7 linked regions of the Homo sapiens genome follow. The protein of the gene in region 3 purifies or fractionates together with the protein of the main gene of each other region. This does not show direct contact. Each region holds a gene or a part of one and is shown on either strand. Other genes may lie near its edges.

Region 1 (3,128 bases), on a different chromosome or scaffold from region 3:
TGCTCGCTTGAAAGACACAAGGGGAGGCTGAAGAAACAACTACCTATCCACTGCCTACCCATCTGTTCACAACATGGGACAAAGAGCCGTGCACCTCTCCTGAGTTCTAAGCAGCAGTTACCAAACCCAGGGACAAAAACGTTCACTCCAGCTCTGCCCACTGTGAGAAACACATCAGACAATCGCAACTGAGGAACGTCCTACAAAACATGAGACCAATCCTCAAAACTGCCAGAGCCCTCAAAACAAGGGAGGTCTGAGGAACTGTCACCCCAGAGGAGCCTAAGAAGATGGGCGATCAAACGCCATGTGGACTCCCAAGACCGGAAAGGACACTGGGGAGACTCAGCACATCTGAATCACGTGTGGACCCAACACCGCGGGTCGGCGGGGGCTCCTCAGGTGGGAGGACTGCCCCATGGGGGCCTCCACGGGAGCGAGGCAGGGTGGCAGGGAGCTCTCTGCACCGCGCCTGCAACTTTTCTACATCTAACACTATAATCAGCGTGGGGCTGTGGCTCACGCCTGTAATCCCAACACTTGGGGAGGCCGAGGCAGGCGGATCACCTGAGGTCAGGAGTTCAAGACCAGCCTGGCCAATGTGGTAAAACCCCACCTCTACTAAAAATACAAAAATTAGCTGGGCATGGTGACGCGTGCCTGTAATCCCAGACACTTGGGAGGCTGAGACAGGAGAATGCTTGAACTGGGGAGGTGGAGGTGGCAGTAAGCTGAGATTGCACCACTGCACTCCAGCCTCGTGACAGAGAGAGACTCCATCTCAAAAAAAAAAAAAAAAGAAAAGCCGAGTGTGTTGGTGCATGCCTGCAGTCGCAGCTACTCGGGAGGCTGAGGCAGGAGAATCACTGGAACCCGGGAGGCAGAGGTTGCAGTGAGCCAAGATGTCGCCATCGCACTCCAGCCTGGGTGACAGAGCAAGACTTTGTCTCAAAAAAAAAAAGAAAAAAAAATTCCTACTCTAAAATTAAAGCTTTGTTTTAAAAAAATGTTCAAGAAAAAAGTGTAAGACTTGGGAAAAGATTAAACAAAACTGACAAAACATTGGTAATTGCTAATGGCAGGAAGAGGCACAGGAGACTGTGGCAGCCTTCTTTCTACCTCGGGGGAACACACTTGACGAGTTCAGGATAAAAAGTATGGAACACGTAAGTTTCAGTTGAGCTGGGTAGAATTCACATCGGTCAGAGTGTTCTCTGTACTCTGTGTGCCTTGGAAATACTTCACGAGAGGGGTGGGGACCGTGGGTGCTGTGTGGACACTGTGTGACGCCGTAGCCCCCACGCCTGGCCAGGGCCTCACCGCCTGCAACTTGTCCAGGTTGTCCTGCAGCACCTTCTCGGTGTGTCTGTAGGCCTTGGCCACCAGCAGTCTTGCTTCCTGTGAGTGGAGGGAACTGTGTCAGGGGCAAGGCTGGCCGCCTGGCTCCAGCACCAAAGCACAGAAAAGAAATGGCAGACTGGGAACACGGCCTTTCCCCTCCCAGGAGGAACAGGACTCCTCAGCCGACAGGTGGTCTCCTGCCCCTGTGACCAGTGCCAGGAAAGCAGGGCTCCGCATGCCAGCCCACCCACCCACACCCACCCACAGCTGCCTCACAGGCACACATCGGCCCTTCCTGGCCCAGTCTGAAGGACATGTGGGCCCTGGGTCTATTGCTCGGTGTATTTATTTGATATTCTTCCCAGATTCACATCTATAATTTCATTAGGAGCATCTATGTCCTCATTTGAGAAGAAAATACTCCACAGGTGGGAACTACAGCAGAGCCCAGAAGGAAGAAACCCAGGTGGGGCCTGCAGCTGAGCTCCGCTGGGGCGGCCGTGGGCGACCCTTGTGTGGTAGACCCAGGGACTCCCTCCCCGGGGAGCACAGAGGGCAGCGGTGTGGCCAGAGCCGACTCACATGGTCCATCATCTGCTGCAGGCCTTGGCTGAAGGGGCGCCGCCCGATGCCCATGAGGCCCTCCTGCGCCTCAGGGAAGGAGATGGGCCCGATGCCAGGTGCCATCCCAAACTGCTTCACCATGGAGTAGGCGATGCGGGTGACCTTCCTCAGGTCGTCCTGTGCCCCTGGAGGGCGGGGTCGAGACAGAGGCATCCTCAGCACTGCAGGCGCAGAGCAGTGCTGGGCCCCAGGTGTCCCGGTCAGAGCACTGAGGCAGCACCACCTCCATCCCCTTCCTCCCGAGGACCCACCGTGAAGCTGGACAGTGAGGACGTTGGCACCTCACCACTGTTCCTTAAGAGAGTCTTAAAACTTTCCGAAATGCTCTTTTATTTGGAAATCTAGAACCCGGGGGCATACTGGAGCTCACTGCATGGCAGTTCTCAAGCACAAGCCCAGGCCTATGCGAGGCAAACCCATGGACCTGGAGCCCAGGGGCCCCCGGGACCCTCCTTCAGCTCTCTGGATATCCCAGTGCAGTAATGGCTTCAGAACAATGAAGCCGCTTCAATTTTATTCCGTTTCCTGTAGCCATTACCAACAATTAACCAATTAAATGTGTCTAGAGTTGGCATATAGGTTAAGTTTTTGTCCAATTAAATTATCTAAGAAGTCTTGCTTAGCTCCAACTCTCTTATGACCACAACTTATCTTTTACAAAATACTTAATAAATTCAAAGCTACGTCTACACCAGATTCACCCCATGGCATGCACTGGAACAGAAGGAGTCATGCAGGGAAAAGCGCTCTGAAACCTCCAGGGCCCGCGCCGCTGCTCCTCACCAGAAGTGACCTCGTTGAAGGACAGTGCTTCCGAGGCCCGTCCTCCCAGGGCCATGCACATCCGCTCAAACAGCTGCTCCTTGGTGAAGAGGTGCTGGTCTCTGGGGAGCATCTGAGCAAAGCCCAGGGCGGCGTTTGTCCGAGGGGTTATGGAGACCTGGCACAAGGTCAAGATGACCCAGGTCAGTAGGCAGGATGCGTGGGCTTTGAGGAGGAAGGTGTGGGACTAAGAGGTCTCCGTCATTAAAGCGTCTCAAAGCAGGAAGGCAAATGTGCAGCATCCTCTACAACAACAGGGGATCCTAACACTCTAGATGGCCAGCCCAGAGACAGCAGCGTTCCCACCACAGGTGCCTGTTCACACACTGCCGGGAAGTGTC
Region 2 (4,196 bases), on a different chromosome or scaffold from region 3:
TCCATATCTACGATCTCCTTATGTATTATTTTAAAAACAAATTTGCCTGAGGCCGGGTGCGGTGACTCACTCCTGTAATCCCAGCACTTTGGGAGGCTGAGGCAGGCGGATCACCTGAGGTCAGGAGTTCAAGACCTGCCTGGACAACATGGTGTAACCCCGCCTCTACTAGAAATACAAAAAAAATTATCTGGGGGTGGTGGTGCAGGCCTGTAATCCCAGCTACTCTGAAGGCTGAGGCACGAGAATCACTTGAACTTGGGAGGTAGAGGTTGCAGTACGCTGAGATCGTGCCACTGTGCTCCAGCCTGGATGACAGAGTAAGACTCCGTCCCCCACCCTCCGCCAAAAAAAAAAAAATGCCTTTTTTTATATGACAAAAGGAAGACTTACCCTCACCAATCCCAAATTTTTCTGTGATGCATTATCATAGATTGTAAAAACCACTAAGGTGCTAAATAAATTGGTTGGGTAAAATATTGGATTAAAGAAGCTCTTCTAATGAATATTTAAGGCACCTTAAAACCACAGGAGCTTCCTGTCTTCTCTCCTTGTAACTAGTTATACCTGTTTTTAAGTGGGAAGCTTGATGATGTTAGAAATAGGGCATTTTCAGGCCGGGCGCGGTGACTCACGCCTGTAATCCCAGCATTTTGGGAGACCGAGGCAGGTGGATCACCTGAGGTCAGGAGTTCGAGACCAGCCTGGCCAACATGGTGAAACCCTGTTTCTACTAAAAATACAAAAATTAGCCGGGCATGGTGGCACGTGCCTGTAATCCCAGCTCCTAGGAAGGCTGAAACAGGAGGATTGCTTGAATCTGGGAGGCGGAAGTTGCAGTGAGCCAAGATCGTGCCATTGCACTCCAACCTGGGCAACAGAGCGAGACTCCGTCTCAAAAAAAAAAGAGGGCATTTTGGCCTATGTTTAAGAAACTCTATATTTAGAACACTGAAGGACTGTAAATTAGTAACAGTGATTCTTTTACATATATGAGTGGAATATTTTATAGGACTGCCACATTTTTCCAGATATATTGGTTAGAATCCACAGACTCACATATTATTTCACATTTGGTATGCATTATTCAAGTTAAAACTTATTTTATGGAATCTTATGGAATATATATTCCAATTACAGTTTATTGTATCTAATCTTTTAAGTATTTAATATTTTCTATCTCCTAATAACAAAGAATAAATTTTACTTAAAATTATGATGAAAGTTAACATTGTTAGTCCTGAAGACCATTGTTAACATTGTGCAGTCCTGAAGACCTGCACCTCAAAGTTAGATCACTGATATGTGCACACAGAAATACACGTTTAGATGTAATAAATATACAATGTGTGTCCAGTTTTTTTCTTACTATTTTATCATAAGCATTTTTTCATATTATTATAGTCTCTCTTTAAACATTTGTAATGGTTCCATAATATTTCATCATATGGATATACTTTGGTTTGCATAATCATTTGTTGCTTTATAATGAAACATTCAGAGTATTTCTTTTTCATGATTATAAGTAAAGCCATTATAAGTATTAATGTGTATAATATTTTTCTGTACTTGGAATTATTCTTTAGTACAGGTATTCTAAAACTGATACTTTGGGTCATAAGTGTGTAAATTATGTTAAATTCCTGTGATTTTTTTTTTTTTTTGCTTGATTGTTGCCCCAGGGTGAAATGTAAATTGACACAATCCTTCTGAAAGTCTGTGTAGGCAAGTGCTGAGTTCCCTCATCAGTGTCAGGTGCTTTTGCTTTTTTCATCACCACGTTTTGAAACTTTTAACAATTGAGAATTTTAATGGAAAAATTATTTTCCTACAAGAGACAGTATCTTTAATTGCTTTGCTATCTTTTCTTCATACCCTCATGATATATATTATAGTAATATCTGTGTGCTATATATTATAGTAGTATAATAAGCTATTATATTACGTATTTGTATATTTATCTTATTTAGCCCACTACTTAGTACAGTGCCATATGATGATGAAAGAATGGATGATGAAAGCATTTTATAGACCTTGCAAATATATCATATTGATTAAATCATGTGCTGTGTAACTCATTCAGCAAGTAGGAAGAATTCTGTTGGGATGGAAAAGAAACAAAAATGCCAACAGCGATATAAAATTATCTCACCCGACTTTTGGTTACGTATAGATTAGCCGATGAATTACATATGCCATCTCTCCCTGAAATGATGTTTGGAGACAACGTTTTAAGAATCCAGCATGGGTCTGGCTTTGGAATTGAGTTCAATGCTACAGATGCGTTAAGATGTGTAAACAACTACCAAGGAATGCTTAAAGTGGCCTGTGCTGAAGAGTGGCAAGAAAGCAGGTGAGAATCCGGTCAATTAGGTTAAACAAAAAAGGTAATTAGGTTAAACAAAAGAGAAAAGACTTGAAAAAATATTCAGTAATGATACGTGTGTGTTGTTAGAATGAAGGGCTGGTATTATTAAACTTGAGAGTTGTATCATTCTAGAATTCGTTTTTCTCAGACATAAAAATGGAAGTTAATTACCCCACTGCTTGAATACTTGTTAAAGTGAATTACAACTGAGCTGAGCTATGTACGTTTTCGATTTTTCAGTGTTCCTTACTGAAGAGGCAGTAGGCTATACTTAATGTTCCTGTTTTTAAGAAAAAATGTTTACTTATGATATGCTTAATAAATACCCTATTTGAGAAGCATTGAAATTAAGACAACATGTTTTTCTTTGATAGTCAAATCAGCAATTATTTACTTTGTGCCTAATATGTACTAAGTACCTTAGATGATACAAATAAGTATAAACCTTTAAACCATGTCCTCAGGCTGTATACAGACTAATTGAAAAGACTACATCAGTACATGACAAGTTAAATAATAAATGCAGAAAAACTGTAAGAAAAACCTTGTACTGGTGAATTATAACAAGTGTATATATTTAATAGGATATGTTATTATAGAATATAATTTGATGTGATATATAAATACAGATAATCTCTATTCTGCATCACTGAATCTGATCCTTCTCATTTTGGTATTTGAGGACGGAGGGTGAACACTCCAAAGAGGTTATTAAACCATATGATTGGACCTATACAACAGATTATAAGGGAACCTTACTTGGAGAATCTCTTAAGTTAAAGGTAAATCTTACTTTTTTCTTTCATGAGTCATTGATTGTCTTGGACAGTCTGAGCATTAGAACTTTCTAGTAACGGGTTATTTTTTGCAACTATTTTTATCGTCCTTGTTTTCTGTTGTGGCATTCCTCAGAACCTAATGTGAGGGGGTTTTGCTTGTTGACTTATCAGTAGAAAATAAAAGACGGCATTAGTGGAAAAATTTATTTTTAAAAGTGTAGTTGGTGGCAACGGCAGACGGCCTTGTTGTTATCATTATCACTATCAAGAAACATTAAAATGTGTTTCGGGCCTTGGTAATGTATTACATGATTTAGACAGAACCTGCTAGCTTGTAGCTCACAAGTTTATAGATGAACAAATATATGAGCAAAAAGAACTTCTGGTTAGACAAAGTAGGTTTATGCCCTGTCTGCCCTGAGTATGAACCTGAAATGACTTTAGGAAGTTACTTAATTTGAGTCTCAGTTTTATCAATAAATTGGGTAAACAGAAATATCTACCTCAAAGCAGAGTTTTGATGTGAAATAATTTATGGGAAGCTCTCAATAAATTCTAAAGCTCTATATTAGTATTAAGTCCTGTGTGTGTAAGCCCTGCTTGAGAAGAGATTGGGGCCAGGCGCAGTGGCTCACGCCTGTAATCCCAGCACTTTGAGAGGCCGAGGCAGGCAGATCACGAGGTCAGGAGCTCGAGACTAGCCTGACCAACATGGTGAAACCCCTTGTCTATTAAAAAAAAAAAATTAGCTGGGTGTGGTGGCGCACACCTGTAATACCAGCTACTCAGGAGGCTGAGGGAGGAGAATTGCTTGAACCCGGGAGGTGGAGGTTGCAGTGGGCCAAGATCGCGCCACTGCACTCCAGCCTGGGTGACAGAGTGAGACTCTGTCTCAAAAAAAAAAAAAAAGAAGAGATTCGGCCAGGTGCAGTGGCTCACGCCTGTAATCCCAGCACTTTGGGAGGCCAAAGTGGGTGGATCATGAAGTCAGGAGTTCAACACCAGCCTGGTCAACATGGTGAAACCCCATCTCTACTAAAAATACAAAA
Region 3 (4,664 bases):
CTGGCTGTGCCCCGGTGTCTCCCGCGACCTCACGGTGCGCTCATTAGCACACTCGTCACACCCCCACCAGCGCGTGATGGCTCCAGAACACCCAGATTTGGTGTAAGAAGTGGGCGGCGCCGCAGCTCTGAGACATCTCCACGTTTTCCAGGAATCCTGTGGATTCCTCCAGCCCCAGCGCCCCTGCCCGGGACGGGACTCTAGAGGGCGCCACACTCCCTTTCTCCAGTGGGAGCTTTGGGCTTCGCAGGAAATCTCTGGTCTTTCACTATTTGCCAACTCGCCCCTGAATTCCTTCTCACGATGGTGTCAAGAGCCTGGACGCTGGCCGGGGTGGAGGTCTCACTGGGGTTGGGGTGTCCCGTAGCCCCCCGCATCGAGGACATCTCCCTGCTTTCTCCTCTCGTCCTTCCCCCATAGCAGAGCGGCTGAGCCCAGGGCTGCTGCCCACCAGAGGACGGGGTACAGCCTGTGGCAGGAGCACCGGCCACCTCACTCCCTCCCTCTGGGTGGGGCAGCAGGACCCATAGCAGAGGGCCGTTATCTCCTTTGGGTGGAAGTTTCCAGACCGGCTCTGTTCTTTGGGAAGGAAATGGCTGGAGGTGCCATGCCTCCAGGTCCCAGTTCTGCCACCAAGGTCTCAGTGATTGACCTGGCTTTGGGCGGCGAGCGGACCATGGTCCTGACGGTCGCGAACTCAGGGCCCGTGGGACTGGGTGCCCTGTGCCTAGTTCACAAGCCTACAGCCTCAGGCTCCAGCACCATCCTCAGCATCCCATCGGGTCTCAGGCCTCCGTGGCTGTGGGCTCCCTCCCGGGCATGTCCAGGGCTGCAGCATCATCTTGGCAGACTTGGGACCTGGCGGACTCCCTGGGCTCTTCCCTGTCATCCTGCCCTTTCCTCTCCTGCTTCTTCTGTAACAAGAGGCAGGAAGGAGCCCGCGGGAGATGGGGAGACTCGGACCAGCCTCACCGTGTTGCCGCACACCCTTGCCTGCCCCTCCAGAAGCCTCTCTCGGGCCCAGGGGGACACACAGGTCTTAGAAATGGTTTATTGACAAATGGCTTCTGGGGAGGGGGCCAGGATTCCCTCTTAGCTACAGAAGGTTCCAGGGTCCAGCTACAAGCAGGGCCCTCGCACGGGGCTCACACAGAGCAAGGCCACTCAGCTGGAATGTGGCCCCTCAACACCACTGCGCCCAGGCTCCCGGACACTGGACCCCTTTGCAGGGGTCTGGGTGTCCCCTGAGGCCGGGGCCGGCTTCCCTCGGGGTGCTCGGTACTTGTTCTTCTGGCCGTAGAACAGGTTCCTCTGGAAAAGGTGGGGAAGGCGGCCCTGGTGCAGCAGCACAGCCAGGACCATCCCTGCAAGAGAAGGCAGGTCCCAGGTGGGCCGCGGGGCTCCTGGGCCCAAACACAGACAGGACACCCACTCCCAGGCCTGTGCCAGGACAGGCGAGCCAGGCAGCCTGGCCAGGAGCCCCAAGAACCCTGAGGCCCAGCTCCTGCCTGGTCCTGGTCTTCCCGCCCTGGTCATGCCCCTCTCTCTGGGTATGCCAGCCATGGGGACGGGGGCAAGCCGGTGGGGTTCCTTGTACTTCTGGACCACCCTCTGGGATGAGTGACTGGAATTCCCCTCCCCCCACATTGTCCTGAGCCACTCCCAGAGCTTCTGTGGCCATTTTCCTCCGGGACCTGATGTGGCGTCCCAGGGTGGCTGCTTGCAGGGCTGTGGCCTGGCGTAGAGGTGGGGGATGTGAGTGGACAAGAAAGATGTGGATGCCCCTGGGTGGGAGGCTGGGCCTGGCTAAATCCTCATGCGAACGTTCTCCCAGAACTCCAGGAGCAGAGACTCCTAAATCCCCGCCTGCCTTCCAGGTCATTGGGAAGGGCAGGTGTTCCGGGCAGAAGGGGAGAGTAGATCCTCTTCAAGTTTGATCTCACTCCTCTAAGGATTTAACCCACAGTGTGTGAGCTCCACTAGGGCTGGCCTGAGGGGGCCCTGCCTGTCACCACCTGCAGCTGCTGTGGCTCCTGACAGTGGCCCCTGTGCCTACAGCTTGCCTACAGTTGCCCCTCACTCGGCCCTCCAGGCCCACACTGGTCCTAGCTCTGTTCCCAGGAGGGCAGGCCCAGGGAGGCGGGATGACCTGCTCAGGGGTGCTGCCAGCAGGTGCCGGTGGCCGCTCACACCCAGGGAGATAGCCCCATGTCCACACCTGGCTACGGGGCTCCTGGCTGCAGCCTTGGAGCTCCCCAGGGCTCATGCTGATACTGAACTTGTGGATAAAGGGGTTAATGGAAGGACACAAGCCTGTTTTTCGGTTTCCTGAAGCTGCCCTAAGATGACAGGAAAGGGATGCTGTCAGAGGTGTCAAGCATCCAGATGGATGAGACGGGAAGAGACGCAGGAGCACAGCGTGGGGCTGACAAGCATGTGGACGACCAAACACTGCTGACATGGAGGGGCCGGATCGCCCCTCCGCAGGGACGAAAGCTGGGAAACAACCCAGTTCTTCCGCAGATGCCCCATGCTTTCAGAAGCTGGCGCCCGGGTCCCTGTGGGATGGGGTGGCCCTGGGACTCGCCTAGGAGGAGGGACGGCAATTCCGCATGGGAAGCTCCAGGGCCCCAAACCCCAAAATACAGAAGCAGCCAGTGCCCCCCTCCCTGGCCCTGGCAGGAGACAGGTTCCTCTCTAGAGGGGGCATGTGGACTCGAGTATCAGGCCCGCCCAAGCCTGGAGTCCCGCCTGAAACACGGATCCCAGCCTCCTCCTACTTGGCTCCTAGAAGCCGCAAATGCCCTTTGGGCTTCTCCACAGAGGCAGTTCTACAGTGAGAGGTTGCAGCCGGGTGAAGAGTATTTCCCCAGCGACACGCCCTTCCCAGAACACAGGATGTGCCCTTGTTAGAATACGGCCTGGGACATAAAATCAGTGAAATCACGGTGACGTCATACTTGAGTAGAGTGAACCTCCAATTCGATGACTGGTGTCCCTATATGAAGAGAACAGACAATGACACAGAGGAGGCGGCCAGGGGAACCGGCAGACATGGGAGTGCTGCGTCTCCAAGCCCGGGGACACCGGGGGTGCCAGAGGCCCCCGGAGCCCGGAAGAGGCAGGAGGCTCCTCCCCAGCAGCCTCCGAGGAGAGCTGACCCTGTCAGTGCTGCCAGCTCAGACTCCAGCCTCCAGAGCTGGCTGAGCATACAACCCTGTCACGTGAAGCCTCTTCGTTTGCGTCCTTTGCCTTGTAGCCCGTGAAGCCACCACAGGCCATGGTTGGGGCCTGAGAAACTCAGGACGAAACTGAGCTCCCACCCGGAACCCTGCCCAGGCCTCACCGACACTCAAGTGCAGGTCAGAACCAGGACACTATTTCAGACACAGGAGGTCTGAAGTGTACCTGCCAGGTCCCCGTTCTCAGGAAGCTACTGTGAGACGGGCACCAGCAAAAAGAAGGAATCAACCGAAACAGGAGGCGATGAGGAAAGCAGGAAACAGAAATACAACCAGGATCAGTGAAGGGCAGCACCATACCGGAGATGGACGCCTGCGGGTAACCCGGAGCTGCGGATCCTCGGGGGAGACGCTGCCCACACAGAGCACTGGTGCTGAACTAAGGAAAGCACCCAGAAGCCTGGGCAGGAGAGAGTCCAGGACCTCGTCACCCGCAGGAAGCAAGGCCTGTGCAGGAGCGGAGAGGCCTCCGGGGCCACCACAGCTCACCCGGGCCGTGTTTCCATGCCAGGGAACTAGAGGGGGCTCTGGAGCTGATCAGGAGGAAGAGGCCGACCCACCCGGAGTGAAGGATCCGCAGGAGGAGCGTGGGGAGGCAAGGAAAGAACATCCGCCCCCCACATCCCAGGAGACAGCCCAGGGTTGATACCTGAACTGAAGAGTCTCGGAGAAGCCCTGCAGGCCCAGTGTGTGGGGACAGAGAGGCCAACACGGAGCTGTTCCTAGCAGAGGGCAGTGCTGCCTCGGCAACGGGGGCAGGAGGGGGTTCCTGATGCACTTCGTATGCTTCCTAGGACCCTGCACATGCCTGAGAGACTGTGACCACATCAGAACCATGGCGACAAATCACGATGACGTCAGTGTCACCATCGCAGGGCCAGGTGCCTGAGAGACCCCCAGCTCCTGTCTTTCCCCCCAAGGGGAGGCTGAGGCATTGCCCCTGAGACCTCCCCAGTGTAGAGCCAGCAGAAGCTGAAAAAAGCTTCCAGAATTCCATAGGAACCCAGCTGCCCTTCTGGTACCTCAGTGAGGTGGAGCCGAGTGTCTGAGAGCAGGTGCAGGAGAAGGTGTGGGCTCCACCTGGGCCTCTGAAGCCAGGGGCCAGAATCCCCAGATCTAGGTCCAAGAGGGGGCTCCATGACCTCCCCATGCTGCTCCTCTGCTTGGATCCAGGATATAAGAAAGGAGGGGCACACACTGTGGGGGAACTCTGGGGTCCCCTGTGTGCATCAGCGAGTCCCGGGTCTGCCCCACCAGGATGCAAAGGGCCTGGCTGCTCCAGCCCCATGCTCACAGCCCTATAAGTGCACGATGGCACCCTATATCATCTAAGCGGGGCTCTCTGCCTCCTGAGGCTTTAGGGACACCAGAATGAGCCCCCCTCGGCGGAGTCTGGCTCTGGGTGTGTGGAGATGCCACCTG
Region 4 (4,196 bases), on a different chromosome or scaffold from region 3:
GGTTCGCACCTGTAATCACAGCACTTTGGGAGGCTGAGGTGGGCGCATCACCTGAGGTCAGGAGTTTGAGACCAGCCTGGCCAACAAGGCAAAACTGTCTCTACTAAAAATACAAAAATTAGCCAGGTGTGGTGGCACACACCTGTAATCCCAGCTACTCGGGAGGCTGACGCAGGAGAATCACTTGAACCTGGAGGCGGAGGTTGCGGTGAGCCTAGATCGTGCTATTGCACTCCAGCCTGGACGACAGAGTGAGACTCTTGTCTCAAAAAAAAAAAAAAAAAAAAAAAAAATCCTATGTTGCAGTGTCTTCTCCAGTGCATAGGCATGATGGTCCTTATCTGGTGGTCCGTAAGCTCCAGCCTCGATACTCTTAAGTGACGCTTGTCAGAACTTTCATGTTTATGGGCTTTCATTTCTTTGTTAGAACACTAACCTAGAAAACTCGGGTAAGACTAAGTGAACGTCATCTCTGGTCAGACCTCAGTCCATGTGGCTCTTGTGAAAGAGTTTTGGCCTAGAGCTAATTAATATTGTTGGATCGTGGATCCTTTTGAGAATTTTTTTTTTTAAAGAGATGGGGTCTGCCTATGTTGCCCAGATTGGTCTTGAACTCTTGGTCCCAAGCTATCCTCTCCTTGGCCTCTCAAAGTTCTAGGATTACAGGTGTGAGCCAATGTACCCATCCCCTTTAGGGAATTTTTTCAAAGCTGTGATCTCTCTCCCCACTTACTTAAATTTTATACAACTTGAGATTCATGGACACTGCCCCTCCAGAGTAAGGTCTGTTGGGGACAATTTCTGATTGTGTTGGATCCGTTGTTGTTGTTTTTTTTGAGGTGGAGTTCGTCGCCCAGGCTGGAGTGCAGTGGTGCAATCTTGGCTCGTTGCAACTTCTGCCTCCCAGGTTCAAGTGATTCTCCTGCCTCAGCCTCCTGGGGAGCTGGGACTACAGGATGTGCCAACATGCCTGGCTAATTTTATATTTTTAGTAGAGGCAGGGTTTCACCATGTTGCTCAGGCTTGTCTCAAACACTTGGCCTCAAGTGATCCACCCACCTCGGCCTTCCAAAGTGCTAGGATTACAGGCATAAGCCATCGTGCCTGGCTGGATCCTTTTATATTTTAAATGCTAAAATCTGCTTCAAGCACATCAGGTGGGCATTATAAAAAGAAGGTAACTGGGGTTTCTAATGACAGATGGGGAAGCCAAGGTGAAGCAGAAGTCATCCCTGAAGTCTTCCCTTAGAAGCCGTTTGCAGCCTTTTCTGAGACAGTCTTGCTCTGTCACCTAGTCTGGAGTGCAGTGGTGCAATCTCGGCTCACTGCAACCTCTGCCTCCTGGGTTCAAGCGATTCTCCTGCCTCAGCCTTTTGAGTAGCTGGGACTACAGGCGCCTGCCACCACGCCCAGCTAATTTTTGTATTTTTGGTAGAGATGGGGTTTCACTGTGTTGGCCAGGCTGGTCTCCGACTCCTGACCTCAGGCGCTCTACCCGCCTCAGCCTCCCAAAGTGCTGGGATTACACAGCACAGAGGCGTGAGCCACTGTGACTGGCTTCTTTGCGGCCTTTCATTCTGCTCAAGTTCACAACTATTTCCAAACAAGTCCAAGCTGGGTAGGGATTGGTGAGAGCTAAAGCAGTCATTCTTCCCACAAGCCTTCCTATGAAAGTGTGCATAAGAGCTATGTCAACTCTGGATCTACCTTCGTCCTACAGGAAAAGAAGAAGCAGAGGCTGCTCTGGAGAAGGGGGATGAGAGTGCTGACTGTCACCTGTGGTAATAACACCCTGCAGTGTTCTGGGAAGAGCCAGCAAGGGCCAAAGCAGAGGACAGCCCTTTCTTTTCTCTGCCTGGGCCACAGAGGCATTTTCCAAAGGATCCAGGAGAGGGAGTTCTGGCTTGTATCTCCACATGCCTCAGTCTACCCCTAGCCAGAGACAAGGGAAGTTTCTGGTAGGGGAGGTGGCTTAGGGATGAGGCAAGCGGGGAATACAAGCTTTTTTTCTGATGGGGCTTGGAGAAATGAGTAGCTTTGTTAAGAGTCATCCTAGCTACAAAACTGGAGTTCTTGGCTCTCAGGAGGCTGGGACAATCTGCAGCTCCCCTATCCTGCATAAGCTCTTCTTTCCCCTGCGTGTGATCCCTGGCTGCTGGTACTTTGGCTTCTTTGCTTGGTTCATGTGAGGAAAAGTAGATGTGAGCTCACCCCCCAGAAGTTTAGTGGTCAATTTATTAGGCTGCAAAAACATCAGCCCTTTTTGTGGTCTCATGTGAGGCAAAGTTCTGTCAGCTTACCTGGGCCACGGCTAACTCATATCCTGGGGTCTGGTTCCAGCACCTGAGTTTTAGTGAAAATGTTCCTTTCCTTTCCCACCGCCACCCTTGCTTTCCATGTCTCCACCCTCAGACTGTGAGCTAAGTGAGAGGCTGTGTTTCTCCATCTGTTGCTGAAACTTTTGTCTCTGCAAGGGTTCTTCTCAGAGGCCAGGTAACTGTTTCTTGGGTGTCACTGCTTCCCTGGGCTTCCAAGGATGAACAGCTATTCCTGAGGAACAGCTGTTTGGATTAAACATGGAAATGAGCCTCTAGAAGTATCTGATACCCCCCGGATACTTAGCATATACATGAAAAAGCAACTTGGGCTGGTTACTCATCGAATGTCAACTGTGCTGCTAGGAACAATGCTGGGGGGATGGGGAAGTAAGACTTTGTTTCTGAAGACAGATGATGGGAAGCTGGCTGGCTGGTTCCCTTTGGGAGGGGGGATGTGGGGGAGAAGGCATATATAGGAGGTCTTTCTTCCTCTGGTTCTGTTGGTTTCCAAGTAACATCAGAAATTCCTAGAATATCCCCTCCCAATGTGACTATCCTAAGAAATTGCTTCCCAAGTCCCAGTGATACACCTGTATGCTTAAAGGCTAATGAGACCCACTTTTTTGTCTGCCCAGAAGATAAGTAGTATAGTCAGGTCTCATACTTTTATGCTGATTGTTTTCATGCTTTTCAAGTTTTTATTAATGCCTGTGGCTGTACTCCTTATGAGTGTAGGAGAGATTTACTGTGTAAGAGAGATTTACTGTGGTGAACCCAGCTTTTTTTATACCTAGAATACTTTGGAGACTTGTAAGCCTACCATTATCTACTAAAGAATACTAATTGGGGCCAGAGGTCCGTAAAGAATGGGGATTACGTACAGATGAAAATTAGGTATTTTCAGCTCTAGTTGAGGGTACAGGGATAGGGGACAATGCAACTAGGCTGTGGTTGGGGCATCCATTCCTTGCAGTGATGGTACTCAGCCCTTGTCCCTGAGCTTGCTGCTTCCCCCCTAGGTATGCGGTGCTTTGTGGTCAGCTGGCTGAGCATGAGAGCATCCAGAGGCGCATCCAGAGTGGCTTTAGCTTCAAGGTGAGGACAGGCTTTTCCTCCTTCCTTGTGCTGGCCTATCCCAGATTCCCCACTCCTTTCCAGCTCCCTGCCAAAAACTTTTCTACAGCCTCAGTGACTTGCCTTTCTTCTTTTTTTTTGAGACAGAGTCTCACTCTATCGCCCAAGCTGGAGTGCAGTGGTGTGATCTTGGCTCACTGCAACCTCCTGGGTTCAAGCGATTCTCCTGCCTCAGCCTCCCAAGTAGCTGGGATTACAGGCATGTACCACCATGCCCGGCTAATTTTTGTATCTTTAGCACAGATGGGGTTTCACCATGTTGGCCAGGACTGGTTTCGAACTCCTGACCTCAGGTGATCCACCTGCCTCAGCTTCCCAAAGTGCAGGGATTACAGGCATGAGCCACTGCATCCGGCCCTTGCCTCTCTTTTAGCAACTCTGGTGTCTGATGTTAGTTTATATTTACATTTTCCCCTTAGGAGCATGTGGACAAAGCCATTGCTCTCCAGCCAGAAAACCCCATGGCTCACTTTCTTCTTGGCAGGTGGTGCTATCAGGTAAGCTGCGTTTCAGTGCTTGACATAATGGTCCTAAATGCCTTCTGACACCGATTTCCTTGCCAGGAAGAACAAGATCCTCAGCCTTCTCTGGCTCAGGTGCCCTTTCTTCTGAATGCTCGTATTATTGGTGGTTCGACCCAGCCCCGTTTGACCCTATTTTCAATATATCCCCAAAGATTTAAAGAAAAAAAACCTTTTAAAACCTCTTATACACACCTTGATCTTTTTGTGGCAGGTCTCTCAC
Region 5 (4,196 bases), on a different chromosome or scaffold from region 3:
AAAATTCCTATCCTCTTGTGACGTTGTAACTGTCTCAACATCATAGTGCAACAAATGACCTTTTCTGTATTTAGGTATGTCTAGATACATAAATACTTACCATTATGTTACAATTGCCTACAGTATTCAGGGCAATAACGTGCTATACAGATTCCTAGCCTAGGAGCAACAGGCTATACCATATAGATTAGGTGTGTGGTAGGCTATTACCATTTAGGTTTGGGTAAGTATACTCTATGATGTTCACACTGTGATGAAATTGCACTACTCAGAATGTGTCCCTATTGTTAAGCAAGGCATGACTGTATGTGTAAATTCAAAGAAATAAATGAGTATGGGATTCTGTCCTGCTATAGGCAGGTCTGTTGGGCAGAGCTAAGAGCCCAGGACATTGAAGAAGAAATAAAGAGCAGCATGAACCACCTGTACAGAGTCTAGGGTACAGAAAGGCTGAATAAGGACCTACTGTAGGAATTCCAGAAAGTTTCCTTCTAGCAAGGATGGTCAGGCTCCCTTTACCCCCACTGCCCCCAGACCTGGCTCTGTTCGCAGGAAGAACTATAACTGGTGGGTTACATGTCTGTTTCCTTGAGACCAGGGCCTGGGTCACCATCCCCATCCCCCATCTGCAGTGCCCAGCAGAGGCCCACTCACTCTTTCATAATCAAGAGCTGCTTTGGGTGAGGGGGAGGGAAGGATGTCCTCATTCAGGCCCTCATCATCTTGAATCTGTCTTTACTGAAACAGAAACAGCCTCTTAACAGATCGGCCCTCAGCCTTTTCCCAATGCAGTCCATCCTTCACTCCTCTGCAAGTCAGCCTTAACTGGGTCATTCCCCTGCTCAAAAACTTCCCACGTCTCCCCACTGTGTACAGAGTAAGAGTTCAAAACTCCTCACCCTGGGCATGGCAGGCCTTGCACATTCCAGCTTCTCTCAGACAACCTTCCCTCTTTTCTGACACCCTGTACAAATCCCACCTCAGGAGCATCAACATATTCCGCAGGCCCAGCAGCCAGCCAGCATCTGCTTCCCGCCTTTGCTTAGCTTGCTCCTGGCTCTGTGGTCTTGTATGAGATGGGGGCTGAGGGCAGGTCTGTGCCTCGCTCATCTCTGATGTCCTCACATGGAGTGAAGGGAGATTCTGACAGGGTCATCCTGACCAAGTGAGGTGGGACAAGAGGAGGCAGGAGAAAAGCAGGCTAGAGCCTGGGGACACACATGAAAAGCCCCCCCAGACACTATCCACACGAGAATGAATGTTCAGAAAAATTGTCTGAATCACACATACACCGTTAAGTTCAATTACTTTCTGTATTTTTGGGATGGGTGTTTAATTGCTATTAGAAAAACATGTATTTGAAAGAACTAAATAATCAATGCCTGGCAGCTCAATGGAATATGGTAGTGGCATCCCCTGGGGGATGGAAGAGTGGATTCCCAACATTGCTGCTCTGCAAATGCCCTGCCAAAAGGGGAAAGTCGCAGCCCGGCAGCCCTTCGCAGTAGCCAACAGGTGATTCCAGGGTCAGCAAGGGTCAGTTTCCATACCCGTACTCCTGTACTGCAGCAGAATGAAGCAAAGCACATCTGTTTCTGGAGGAATGAAGATGCCACACACAGCCTGCAGTTATGAATGGCTCTTATAACAACAGGATGACATCTGTGCTTGGTTTTTAAGATGCATCATCGCATGTTTATTAAACTATTGCTCCAACATATTTATTTGGCTACAAAACAACTCCCAGCCCATATTTCCAAAAGTGGTTTATTAAAAACTAAGGCTTGAACATTAATACCCAAAAGCACCCTTGAGAATCAATAATAATGCTGCAGATAAAATGAAAGGGAATCAAAGCAGTAAGTCTTGGTGGGGTGGGCTGCTTTTCAACACTTTCTTGTATGTTCAGGAAGCTAAGGTGGGGAAGAACACCAAGGGCCTGTGGCACTGGGTGTGGAAATAGCCACCCCAACACCTGACTTCCTGTCTAACATGCAGACATGATGGCAAGGAAGGGGGGTGTCCTATGGCCACCTAGCTCTATATAAATGGCCAAGAGAGGCCAAGGTTAGGCCCAGTGGGGGGCATAGTTTCAACAAGAATAAGACCTCTGCCCTTAACCAACAGCCCTGTAACTGATGCCCCATGCTGGCCCCAGTCTGAGCATCCATCCTGGACACAGACTCTGCCCTATACCTGGCACTGGGCTGAGCCGAGTTGAATCTTGCCCTTGCCAAATAATAAGCCTCAAATTCAACCTGCCAGTGGTCACTGGAGACTAGCTGAGCCAGTGAAGCTACAGAAATGCAGTCTGTCCCCGGGCAAAGCCAGGTATGGGCCCCTGGCCCTGCAGGCAGGCATTTCTAGCCCCAGACCTTCTGGCAGATGGTCTCTTCCAGCTCTGTCCCAAATCCCCAAGCCTTTCCATAGATGCCGACCTGCAACCTGTCCAGGCAGCAAGCAGTAATACATGGCCATTCCCAAAGAAATGAGCACAAATCAGAAGATTCAGAGAAGAACCCAAAGGATATGGGGGCTGAAGGGAGTCCAAACCAACCCAGTGAAGAACAAAATAGCTGAAGGATCCAGGGATGTTTGGGAGCTGACTCCCTACCGAAAATATCCAAGGGGTGATCTGGGTAAAGGAAGCCCAGGTGACTCTGTGACTACAGAGATGTCACAGGGGACAGTTCCCAGCTTAGGGTAAGGATTTCCTCCAAAGCAAAGTCATCACACGAGAAGAGGCTCGCCCTGCTCAGCCTCTCCTGTAGGGGAGAGCAAGGCCTGGGGTTCAACTCACCTGCTGACTTCTTGCATATTGTTGGCACGGGCAGCTTCCAACAGGGCTGCATCTGAAGAGAAAGGGGGCACTGGTCAGATCCGCGGCCAGGACATACCCATCTCAGGACTGCGTGGAGGGCCCACTAAGACAGTGGCAGTACTTTAGAAACGTGGACTTTGACAAGCAAACTGATGTCACAATATATAATGAGAAACGAATCATTCCCTCCCCACATGGTGTCCACTGTTAACAACCTGACTTCCACACCTTTCTACTACAGAGCCCAAACTCTTCACTCCTCTCATCATAGAGGGAATGCAGGTCAACTGCTAGCACCACGTCTTGCCTATGGTAAATAATGTGCTCTTCATAATCTATGAAGCTCTGCATATGCTTTATGTTCCTATAAGAGTTATTACTAAAGATTCCCTGATCTTGTCCACTTTCTCCCTCAACTCCAGTTCTTCAACCCAGTTCTGAATCTTGATGTCAAGTCATAAACCCAAAAGGAAAGGTAGAATGGAGAGGAGCAAGCAGGGTGTAGGCCTCTCTGAGGATGGAGAGGTCTCAACTAGGAGTCTTTGAGATCTAGCTCCATTCCACTCCCACTACTCACCACGTGACCATGACAGCTCCTCTCTCTCTCAACCACAGCTTTCCTGACTGTAAAACATAGACAAAACTCCTTGCCCTGCCAGCTTCACAAGGATGTCAAGGAGATGAAATGACAGTTGAGACGTCTGCAAACTCCCCAGTGCTGAGCCCAGGGAAGGGAGACCCAAAGCAGAGGAGACACTAAGCCTAGGAGAAAAGCAACGCTAGCTAAGTGCGTCTGGCCTGGTCTGGGCAGCCTGCAGGCTGTTGCCACCACCTTGTGGCCATAAAGAAAATTGGACTGACTCAGAAAAACTCAAAAGTCAACAGGAGAGGCACAATCTTTTCAAATAGCTCAATACCAGGTACATGGAGCCCTCTGTGCCCAGCCTGGTTCTGAGCTACACTGCTGGGCAGTGGGCGGATTCATAGCCAGCCCTGACTCAGGGAACTCTCAGTCCAGCCAAAAGACTCACTCATGAGCAAATGCACTGGAGTAGAGTGAAAGAGCAGGATCTGGAGACAGTCAGACCTGGGGTCTAGCCCAGCTCTGTCGCTTATTTGCTGTATAACCTAGCCCACCTATCTAACCTCCTGAGCCTTAGTTTCCTTATCTGTACAATACACCTTATCATGCATATGAAAGCCAGTCCTGTGGTTCAGACATTGATGCCTCCTGGCCTAGATTCCAGGGACAGGTCCTTTCTACTTACCTTACCGGATGTACCTAAAGCACATACCCAAGCATGGCTCAGACAGCCACCAGCTGGGAGGGGATCAAGCCTTCCTTAGAGATGGCTATATCCACTCTCCCTTCACT
Region 6 (4,196 bases), on a different chromosome or scaffold from region 3:
TTTGTCAGGGAATTCAGTAAAAGTTCTATACCCATTTGCATTTTGACACTACAGTTTCATTTTGATTCTATAGATAAACCTGCAAATGTATAAAACAACCTTAATACATTGGTGTGCTTTGTTGGTGCATTATTGTATAGCATCAAAAAATTTGGAAACAACCCTAGTGTCCGAGCAACGAAAGATTCATTGAATAAATAATGGCATATCCACATACTGGAGTAGTATTCAATGTTTAAAAAAGAATCAGGAAGATCTCTATGAACTAAAATAGAAAGATCTACAGAGGGTACATTATTAGGTTTAACAAATCAAAATGCAGAGAATATATATCGTATACCTCCTATTGTATAAGAAAGAAAAGAAATAATATGTATTTATATTTGGATAAAGAATCAGTGAAAAATAAGAAACTAATAAAAATGGTAACCTATAGGGGGCCAGGGGAGATGGGTGGATGGGTACAGTGGTAGGAGCAAGACTGCTTAGCATATATCTTTTATATCAGTTTGAGTTTTTAGCCATATTTAAACAATTTAGGTAAATTTTATATTATGTAGTTTTTACCACAATAACTTTTTTTAACTTTTTATTATAGAAAATTTTAAACATATGTAAATACAAAGAATGGAAAATGAACTCCCATATACCCGTTGCCTAGTTTCAACAATTATCAACATATAGCTAGTCTTGTTTCATCCATATCTCTACCCACTTTCTATCTTCTCCCACTCTCAACTGGATTATTTTGAACCAAATGTTAAAACATCATATCATTTCATCCATATATACTTTAAAACATAAGGGCTTTTTTTTAACATGACACCATATAATTATCACAGCTAAAACTTTAATAATAATTCTTTAATAACCAAATATTATTTTAATTTCCCCAATTGTCTCATAAATGTTATAATTGATTTTTTCGAAATAGTATCTAAATAAGGTCCACTGGTTGTATTTGGTTTCTTAAGTATCTTTTAATCTTAGGTTCTCCCTTTTTGGTTGTTTTTTTTCCAACCTCCTAGCACTTTATTTGTAGAAGAAGATGGCTGTTTGTCTTGTACAGTTTCCTATATTCTGGATTTGCTGATTGTCTCCCTGTATTGTCTTTTAAACTTGTTTCTCTGAATTCTAAATCTTCTCTGAAGTGATAATTAAATATAGTGGTCTGAAAGATGCAAGTTTTTTTGTCTTTATTTTTCCACCCAGTATTATGCATATAATATGATACCTGGCTGTGTGTCTCTTTGTGATGTTAAGGAGCTATCAGCCTTATCCATCCATGATAAAGTTCTTCAGAAGTTTACCAAAGAAGATTTCAAGATTAAATTTTAAATTGGATGCTGCAAGATTTTATGAAAAAGTTAAAAGGAAAGCTAAAAAGAGAAATAAGAGAGCAAACTATATATGTATGCTTTATATGTGTCAGTGTGCAAGGAATTGTGCAAGACTATATGAGAGATGTATGTACATCAAAGATGATATTTGATAGAAGATATGCAAAACTTTGTATGTGAGACAGAAGGAAACAGTCCTAAAGGAAAGACACTCTCAAAACTTCATTCCCTAACAAAGCGAATTGTAGCTTTGAACCATGTCTCTTTAATTAGAGTTGCTGTTGATATGAATAATCAAAGGTCTTGATCATGCTATTATTGGCTTTGATGCAATAAATAGAATGGTAATATTTTTGTGAGATGGGAGGTTGTATAGTAAAACACTTGTGTTCCGAGGCTGAACAGTTTGCTGAGGCGCTGTAAGATTATTGTGAAGGGCATAAATACTTAGTAACTTTGCCCCCTACCCCAATTTAGAATTTCTGTAAGAGAAAGAAAAGTAGTGTTAAAGGAAGAAAAAAAGCTATGCTCGACTGGGTTGTAGTGATTGGATTATGCAATATTGATTTACTGTCATAAATTGTGCACAACCAGATTTTGCTGACTGTTGTAAGTTGAGCTTATAACGTGTCAGAAATCCAAATCTGTTTTATTTCTAATATGTGAGTAGAATTTAAATTAATTCAACAGCAATGGCCTCTGTGTTCTTTTCAGTAATGAGAAGTATCATTTACATCACCACTCTGTTCTTTGGATAAATAAATTTTTTAAAAAATAAGGATTGTAATAGCCAGTGATCCAAGGCCACTAACCCTAAGTGGTTCTTATTGCCCGTCCTCTATCTCCCATGGCTCTCATTTCAGGAAACAACTACTTGGTACTAAGTTCTTTCCTTTTACTATTCATTTTGCATTTCAGCTGTTTCCTTCCATTTCCATGTGTTTAATCCACCTTTCCCAGGCTATAGTATCACCTATATTTGATTTATTCTAGGCTTCAGCTTCCCTATTTCTATTTTCTTATTCTTCTTATTTCTTTACTATTCAGACAGAAATGTGTATTGTAGATATAGAATTAATGCATACCCCAAAAGGTACCCAAGAAGCTTGCCATTTTCTCTTCTAGCACAAGGCTTGAGTGCCATGCTAGGCTTTTGGGTTTTTGCTACGATGAGGCTTAAATCCACTCTCTGCTTCTACTCTGAAATATTCCTGAGCTGTTATGTTAACCTTAGAAGACACAGCTACATTGGAAGTTAAGTCCACTGACTGTAATATACTTGATGGGCACTTAGTTGTTCAATTATTCAGTATTGTTCAATATTCAATAAAAACATGGGACCAAATTTTGAGAAGTTAGATGAATAGCTGGAATCTGATGATGAGGATGGATTGATAAAAGAACAAGTAGATGGAAGAAGTTGGAAGGAAAGTAGGTTTGTAGGTGAAGGCAGCAAAAATCAGTTAATTTTCAGTAAAATAGTGTAACTTAGTTGCACTTAAATATTACACATCTACACCAGAAAGATACATTCTATTCACCTCTTCATTATTATTTATCACAGGGATTATGATCAAGAACAGTTTGCTGATAACCAAATACCACTGTTGGTAATAGGGACTAAACTGGACCAGATTCATGAAACAAAGCGCCATGAAGTTTTAACTAGGACTGCTTTCCTGGCTGAGGATTTCAATCCAGAAGAAATTAATTTGGTATGTATTTTCACTAATGCATGCTTGTATTATTATCGGGTAAAGACAAAACTGAAGACATATTCAAATAATATATTCTAGTGAAAGAAGCTTTATACTTGAAATCAGGCTATTTGGATTCTAGTCTAAACGTAGTCAAGATTGGAATCAACATATCTAGACTGAGAGATGTGCACAGTCACTTCAGCCTTTTATGTTGGTCTGTTGGAATGTTCCAACTTTATTCTATGAATAATTTAAATCATAGGCTTCTTTTTTTGAAACAGAGTCTCGCTCTGTCGCCCAGACTGGAGTGCAGTGGCGCGTTCTCAGCTCACTGCAGCCTCTACCTCCTGGGTTCAAGCGATTCTCATGCTTAGGCCACCTGAGTAGCTGGGATTACAGGCATGTACCACCATGTCCAGCTAATTTTTTAAATATTTTTAGTAGAGATGGGGTTTTGCCATGTTGCCCAGGCTAGTCTTGAACTCTTGACTGGATTTGCCCTCCTTGGCCTCCCAAAGTGCTGGGATTACAGGCGCGAGCCACTGCACCTGGCCCATGGGCTTTTTCTTGAGAAAGGTTTTTAAAATCACACCAAAATTAAAATAAATTGATTAAAGTGGCACTATAAGCATATTATTCTTGCTTTTAAAAAGCCTCTTAGCTTCTTAAACTACAAATTTTACCTTAAAGGGCAACGTAACAAATACATGAAAAAATTGCAAACCTTAAACTAGGAGTGCTTCATAAGGACTAATTTATGTACACTTATGCATATATAGAGGATTGAGTCCCTTGATGAGATAACTAGCTCAATGAGAACTGAGCGCGTAAAAAAGCTAAGAAATGGTTGTCATGTAAGCCTGTTAGGATCCCAGAAAAAGATCCTGGCCAGCAATTTCAGTCATGGTCATGTTGTTCACAAATAGGATTTCTGCAACTGTGCACTGGCATTCCAGAAATGCAGTGGTGGTGGTGTAATAGTACTAGTGAGCAACATTTATTGAGCACTTACGGGTTGAAAACTGTTTTAGTTATTTACATACATTATCTCACATGCATCATCTTCACAATCAACTCTATAAGACAGGTACTATTACTATCCTCTTTTTAAAGATAAGAAGGAGAGACGTAACAAGACCAAGGAAGTTTACCCAGG
Region 7 (4,196 bases), on a different chromosome or scaffold from region 3:
TAGCCACGCTGAGCTAAGTAACCTGGTGCCAAGCAAGGCTAGGCTTAATTAGAACTTAGATGGAATGCTACTGTTAAATGATTCATGCTATGGAATTATGTTAACAAATGTGAAAATTTCCGGATGTTTCAGTTAAACTGTCATGGAAGTATTTTTCCTCTCACAGCAAATCCTAACTTCTGTGAGCCAAAACACTGGGAGCTTTTTTCAAATGCACAACTTGAGAATACTAAAAGTTAATAATTCTCTGAGAAACTTACTTCTGTACAAGCTTATTCCAGTTCTCTTTGACAAAATCCCATGCCAGTAAGTGTCCAGGAAAATGTCGACCCACTGTTCTAATGATAAAAGACAGCTTCTGTGTTCGGAAGTTATCTCCATTCAGGCTACTTTTCATTAACCTGAAGAGCAAAGCAGATTTAGCCTCCAAAATTATTATTCATGAAGAAGTGATGACTGAACTTAAATTAAAATTAGTATGGTTTCCTAATTAAAGCTGTGTAGCAAATTGAGAAATAACTGTTGCATTAGTCTACGGTTGATCTATAGATTGAAAATGTCATTTTTTTTAAATGAAGAAAGAACTCACCAATAAAATAGGCATTTACCTATATTGTCACATGACAATAAATAGTTTTTAAATAGTAAAAACATTTAGGAAATAAGTTCTGGTAGAATTTATTACAATTCGGGAGGTGGGTATTTTTTTCTGGTAAAAACCTTATTTGATTTGAATGGGCAGGTTAATTATATTACTATTCTTAAAAAAAACTAGGTCATTTGAATTATTTGAAAATTAGGATACATTTCAGAATATACTCTTATTAATGTTCGTAGCAAACATTTACTGACACTATGTACTAAATAATGTTCTAAGTCCTTGACACAACAATGCTATAAAGTAGGTATTTATTAATACTACCTAACTCAATTTTATAGTTGAAGAAACTGAGGTTATCTAATTGACCCACAGTCACACAGTAATAAATACCAAAGCCCGACATCTGAACAAAAGCAGTTCTCATCTACTATGCTATACTATCTGTTTATAGTGAGAAACCACGCCCCACTCCAAGACTGTGGCAGTATTTTTAGGAGAGAAAAAAACAAAAGCCCAACAAAACGTGATGGATTAAATAAATTATGATAGGGCCATACTACAGAATATTATGAACCCATAAAACACTTTAGTTTTTTTTTATATATAAAGCAGGCTTCATGAAGTGACATGGAAAATCTCATAGACTGATCATTCACTAAAAAGATGGTCACAAAACACTGGGTATGGTATAAACCTAATATGGTTTTTAAAATGCAGTTAAATATGTAGGTATGTGTGTATGTATGTACGTACATATGTACAAATATCCATTCCCACAGATGAATACAAAGACCAGGACTGACACTGTTGTTAACAGAGAAAACGAGAATGGAAGTGAAGGATCATGAGAAATACTTTCATATTTTACTCTATATTCTTAGGTACTGTTTAAATTCTTTATCATGGGCATTCTTAGTGTATTACTAGCATAGTTTAAAAACAGTGATTTTTCTCTATTTGCTTAAGTCAGAGGCTGGCTAATACTTTAAAGAAAATGACTATTTACAGCGTATCTTTTGGTAAGTGGGTCTGGACAGGTACTGAGGACATCTCTGGGACACTATTAAGATTTATCTGAGCAAAATCATACAACAGAAGTAATGAGACCCAGAAGCCTCCTTCTATCCTCAGTGCGACTTCTAACACCTGTGCTCTCTACAGCAGATACCTCTATATTCCTCTTGGCTATGTAGAGCTCCTCTACCCCACCACTGCCTGTTCTTCCTGTCAGGAGGCCCTACTTACTGCCCTACCTTCATCCATATGACACTCCTACTTCTGGGCCTTCATCACTACATATTAAAAAGGAAAAGTCTGACAAATAAATTCATATGAACGTAGAACCTAGAAGGTTTAATATGTGATTTTTTTTTTCTGAAATGCCTACATTTTTAAAATGACAGCTTGCACAAAGCAATGCCTTGGTCCTAAACTATGGAGTACCAATTGTGGTGTATAAGACAACATTCCAAGGGGAGGAAGACTTTTTGAGCAAGGAGTAGGAGGGGGCTGTGACTCCTGACATCTTGTAATCCCTTTTGGGCAAAGGATTTTCTGCTTGTCCATAAAGATAAAGCCCAGCACCTGTAGTCTCCTCACCACACTGTCCAACTTAGGCCTGGCCTGTAACAGAAGTGGGGAAAAGAGATCCCCTCAAAAATGAGCTCCTGACCAAGAGCACAGTGTTTGTATTCTTTTGGTTTCTGTATATCATATTCCTCGGTGATTTCATACCAGTAAAGCTTCCGCACATCCTCTGAGCTGGCAAGTGCTTCTAGTATTTTGTTCTTCTCTGCTTCAGAGCCTATAGAAATGTATTTGCCCAAAAGGAATGACCAGCCTTTGTCAGTTTTTGCTCCAACTTTGAACACAGTTGTCATGACATCAGTAGGTAGGCTGTAAGAGAGGTGGTCAAACATGAGAATAACAAGAAAATATTCTGAATACAAAGGCGAAGAGTTGGCTGTGGTGGAGTTTCTGGTGTGAGGGTTGGTAATAATAACAAGTTTGAGTACACAATTTAGGGTTGAGAAAAAGTTTAATTCAGTGACTGCTATCTTCCTAGTAGTGTGTCTATGGATACATCAGTTCAATTTAATATTCACAGAGTACTCACAAAGAACCAGGCAGGCGACTGGCTGGACACTAGGGAGCGGAAAAGGAATGAGAGCCTCTGTCCTCTGAGAACTCACAGGCTACTACGAAGTATAGAGCAATAACTATATGCATTACAATTCAGTGTGATAAGTTTCATGGTAGAACTATAGCAGTAAATGGGGTGCAGGGAGAAAACACAGTCTACTGCCTTTATTAAGATCTCAGAGCTGGGAAAGACCTCAAAACGTTATCCAAATCCTCCACCCCAACTCTTCATCTGATGCTTGAATCTTCTCTCCATAATGCACGGTAAGGAGCTGGAGAGAACTAATTACCCCCAAAAGCTTTTCTGTTAACTGCTAACTCTACCTGCTATGTTTTATTTCTAAATTAAGAGACTTGTTTATCACCTCACACCCATTAGGATGGCTGCTATCAAAAACCCAGAAAATGGCAAGTGTTGGCAAGGATGTAGAGAAATTGGAATGATGGTGCAGCTGCTGTAGAAAACAATATGGCAGTTCCTCAAAAAATTAAAATTAGAATTACCATATGATCCAGCAATACTACTTCCAGGTGTATTTCCAAAAGAATTGAAAGCAGGGTCTCTAGGAGATATTTGCACACCAATGTTCATGGCATTATTATTCACAATAGCTAAAAGGTACAAGCAGCACAAAGGTCTATCCAGGAATGAATGGATAAACAAAATGTGGTATATACATACAATGGAAAATTATTCAGCCTTTAAAAAGAAAGAAATTTTAGCCAGGTATGGTGGCTCATGCCTATAATCCCAGCACTTTGGGAGGCCTAGGTGGGCAGATTTTCTGAGGTCAGGAGTTCAAGACCAGCCTGGCTAACATGGTGAAACCCCGTCTCTACTAAATATACAAAAATTAGCCAGGTGTGGTGGCGGATGCCTGTAATCCCAGCTACTCCGGATACTGGGGCAGGAGAATCAATGGAACCCGAGAAGTGGAGGTTGCAATGAGCTGAGATCGCGCCACTGCACTCCAGCCTGGGTGACAGAGCAAGACTCCATCTCCAAAAAAAAGAAAAGAAAGAAAGAAAGAAATTTTAATGCATGCTACAACATGGAAGAACCTTGAAGACGTTATGGTAAATGAAATGAGCCAGTCACAAAAAAGCAAATTCTATATGACTTTACTTATATGAGATATACAGTGTAGTCAACCTCACAAAAACAGGAAGTAGAATAGTGGTTACCAGGGGCTGGTGGGGAGAGGGAGTGAGGAATTATTCAATGGGTACAGAGTTTCAGTTTTGCAAGATGTAAAAGTTCTGAAAATATAGTACACAATAATGTGAATATGCTTAACACTACTGAACTGTACAGTAAAAAATGGTTAAGACAGTAAATTTTATGTTATGTGTATTTTACCACAATTTTTTAAAAAGTCTTGTTTGACACCGCATGTTCTCACTCATAGGTGGGAATTGAACAATGAGAACACATGGACACAGGAAGGGGAAC

Evidence for each region.
Region 1: the proteins of AQP12B (region 3) and SPG7 purify together in Homo sapiens (affinity purification with mass spectrometry; one large-scale study listed by BioGRID and IntAct). This does not show direct contact.
Region 2: the proteins of AQP12B (region 3) and TIPRL purify together in Homo sapiens (affinity purification with mass spectrometry; one large-scale study listed by BioGRID and IntAct). This does not show direct contact.
Region 4: the proteins of AQP12B (region 3) and RMDN3 purify together in Homo sapiens (affinity purification with mass spectrometry; one large-scale study listed by BioGRID and IntAct). This does not show direct contact.
Region 5: the proteins of AQP12B (region 3) and CLPB purify together in Homo sapiens (affinity purification with mass spectrometry; one large-scale study listed by BioGRID and IntAct). This does not show direct contact.
Region 6: the proteins of AQP12B (region 3) and RABL3 purify together in Homo sapiens (affinity purification with mass spectrometry; one large-scale study listed by BioGRID and IntAct). This does not show direct contact.
Region 7: the proteins of AQP12B (region 3) and LNPEP purify together in Homo sapiens (affinity purification with mass spectrometry; one large-scale study listed by BioGRID and IntAct). This does not show direct contact.

What each region holds. Positions count from the first base shown.
Region 1 is NC_000016.10:89,552,756-89,555,883, reverse strand, and holds part of SPG7 (mitochondrial inner membrane m-AAA protease component paraplegin isoform 1 precursor), read right to left. Parts: intron 2,906-3,128; coding exon 2,749-2,905; intron 2,091-2,748; coding exon 1,924-2,090; intron 1,399-1,923; coding exon 1,321-1,398; intron 7-1,320; coding exon of another isoform or gene 1-6. UniProt on the Homo sapiens protein: Catalytic component of the m-AAA protease, a protease that plays a key role in proteostasis of inner mitochondrial membrane proteins, and which is essential for axonal and neuron development.
Region 2 is NC_000001.11:168,181,729-168,185,924, forward strand, and holds part of TIPRL (TIP41-like protein), read left to right. Parts: intron 1-2,173; coding exon 2,174-2,353; intron 2,354-3,050; coding exon 3,051-3,150; intron 3,151-4,196. UniProt on the Homo sapiens protein: May be a allosteric regulator of serine/threonine-protein phosphatase 2A (PP2A). Isoform 1 inhibits catalytic activity of the PP2A(D) core complex in vitro. The PP2A(C):TIPRL complex does not show phosphatase activity.
Region 3 is NC_000002.12:240,675,381-240,680,044, forward strand, and holds the end of AQP12B (putative aquaporin-12B), read right to left. Parts: intron 4,405-4,664; coding exon of another isoform or gene 4,106-4,404; exon of another isoform or gene 4,059-4,105; coding exon of another isoform or gene 3,892-4,058; exon of another isoform or gene 3,643-3,891; coding exon of another isoform or gene 3,543-3,642; exon of another isoform or gene 3,431-3,542; intron 2,999-3,430; coding exon of another isoform or gene 2,961-2,998; intron 2,340-2,960; coding exon of another isoform or gene 2,219-2,339; intron 1,365-2,218; coding exon 1,165-1,364; coding exon of another isoform or gene 1,146-1,164; 3' UTR 1,038-1,145; downstream 1-1,037. UniProt on the Homo sapiens protein: Putative aquaporin. Could form homotetrameric transmembrane channels, with each monomer independently mediating water transport across the plasma membrane along its osmotic gradient.
Region 4 is NC_000015.10:40,737,718-40,741,913, reverse strand, and holds part of RMDN3 (regulator of microtubule dynamics protein 3), read left to right. Parts: intron 1-1,720; coding exon 1,721-1,781; intron 1,782-3,337; coding exon 3,338-3,413; intron 3,414-3,871; coding exon 3,872-3,949; intron 3,950-4,187; coding exon 4,188-4,196.
Region 5 is NC_000011.10:72,427,512-72,431,707, forward strand, and holds part of CLPB (mitochondrial disaggregase), read right to left. Parts: intron 2,853-4,196; coding exon 2,801-2,852; intron 1-2,800. UniProt on the Homo sapiens protein: Functions as a regulatory ATPase and participates in secretion/protein trafficking process. Has ATP-dependent protein disaggregase activity and is required to maintain the solubility of key mitochondrial proteins.
Region 6 is NC_000003.12:120,697,282-120,701,477, reverse strand, and holds part of RABL3 (rab-like protein 3), read left to right. Parts: intron 1-2,904; coding exon 2,905-3,055; intron 3,056-4,196. UniProt on the Homo sapiens protein: Required for KRAS signaling regulation and modulation of cell proliferation. Regulator of KRAS prenylation, and probably prenylation of other small GTPases. Required for lymphocyte development and function. Not required for myeloid cell development.
Region 7 is NC_000005.10:97,022,822-97,027,017, reverse strand, and holds part of LNPEP (leucyl-cystinyl aminopeptidase), read right to left. Parts: intron 2,498-4,196; coding exon 2,336-2,497; intron 402-2,335; coding exon 261-401; intron 1-260. UniProt on the Homo sapiens protein: Release of an N-terminal amino acid, cleaves before cysteine, leucine as well as other amino acids. Degrades peptide hormones such as oxytocin, vasopressin and angiotensin III, and plays a role in maintaining homeostasis during pregnancy.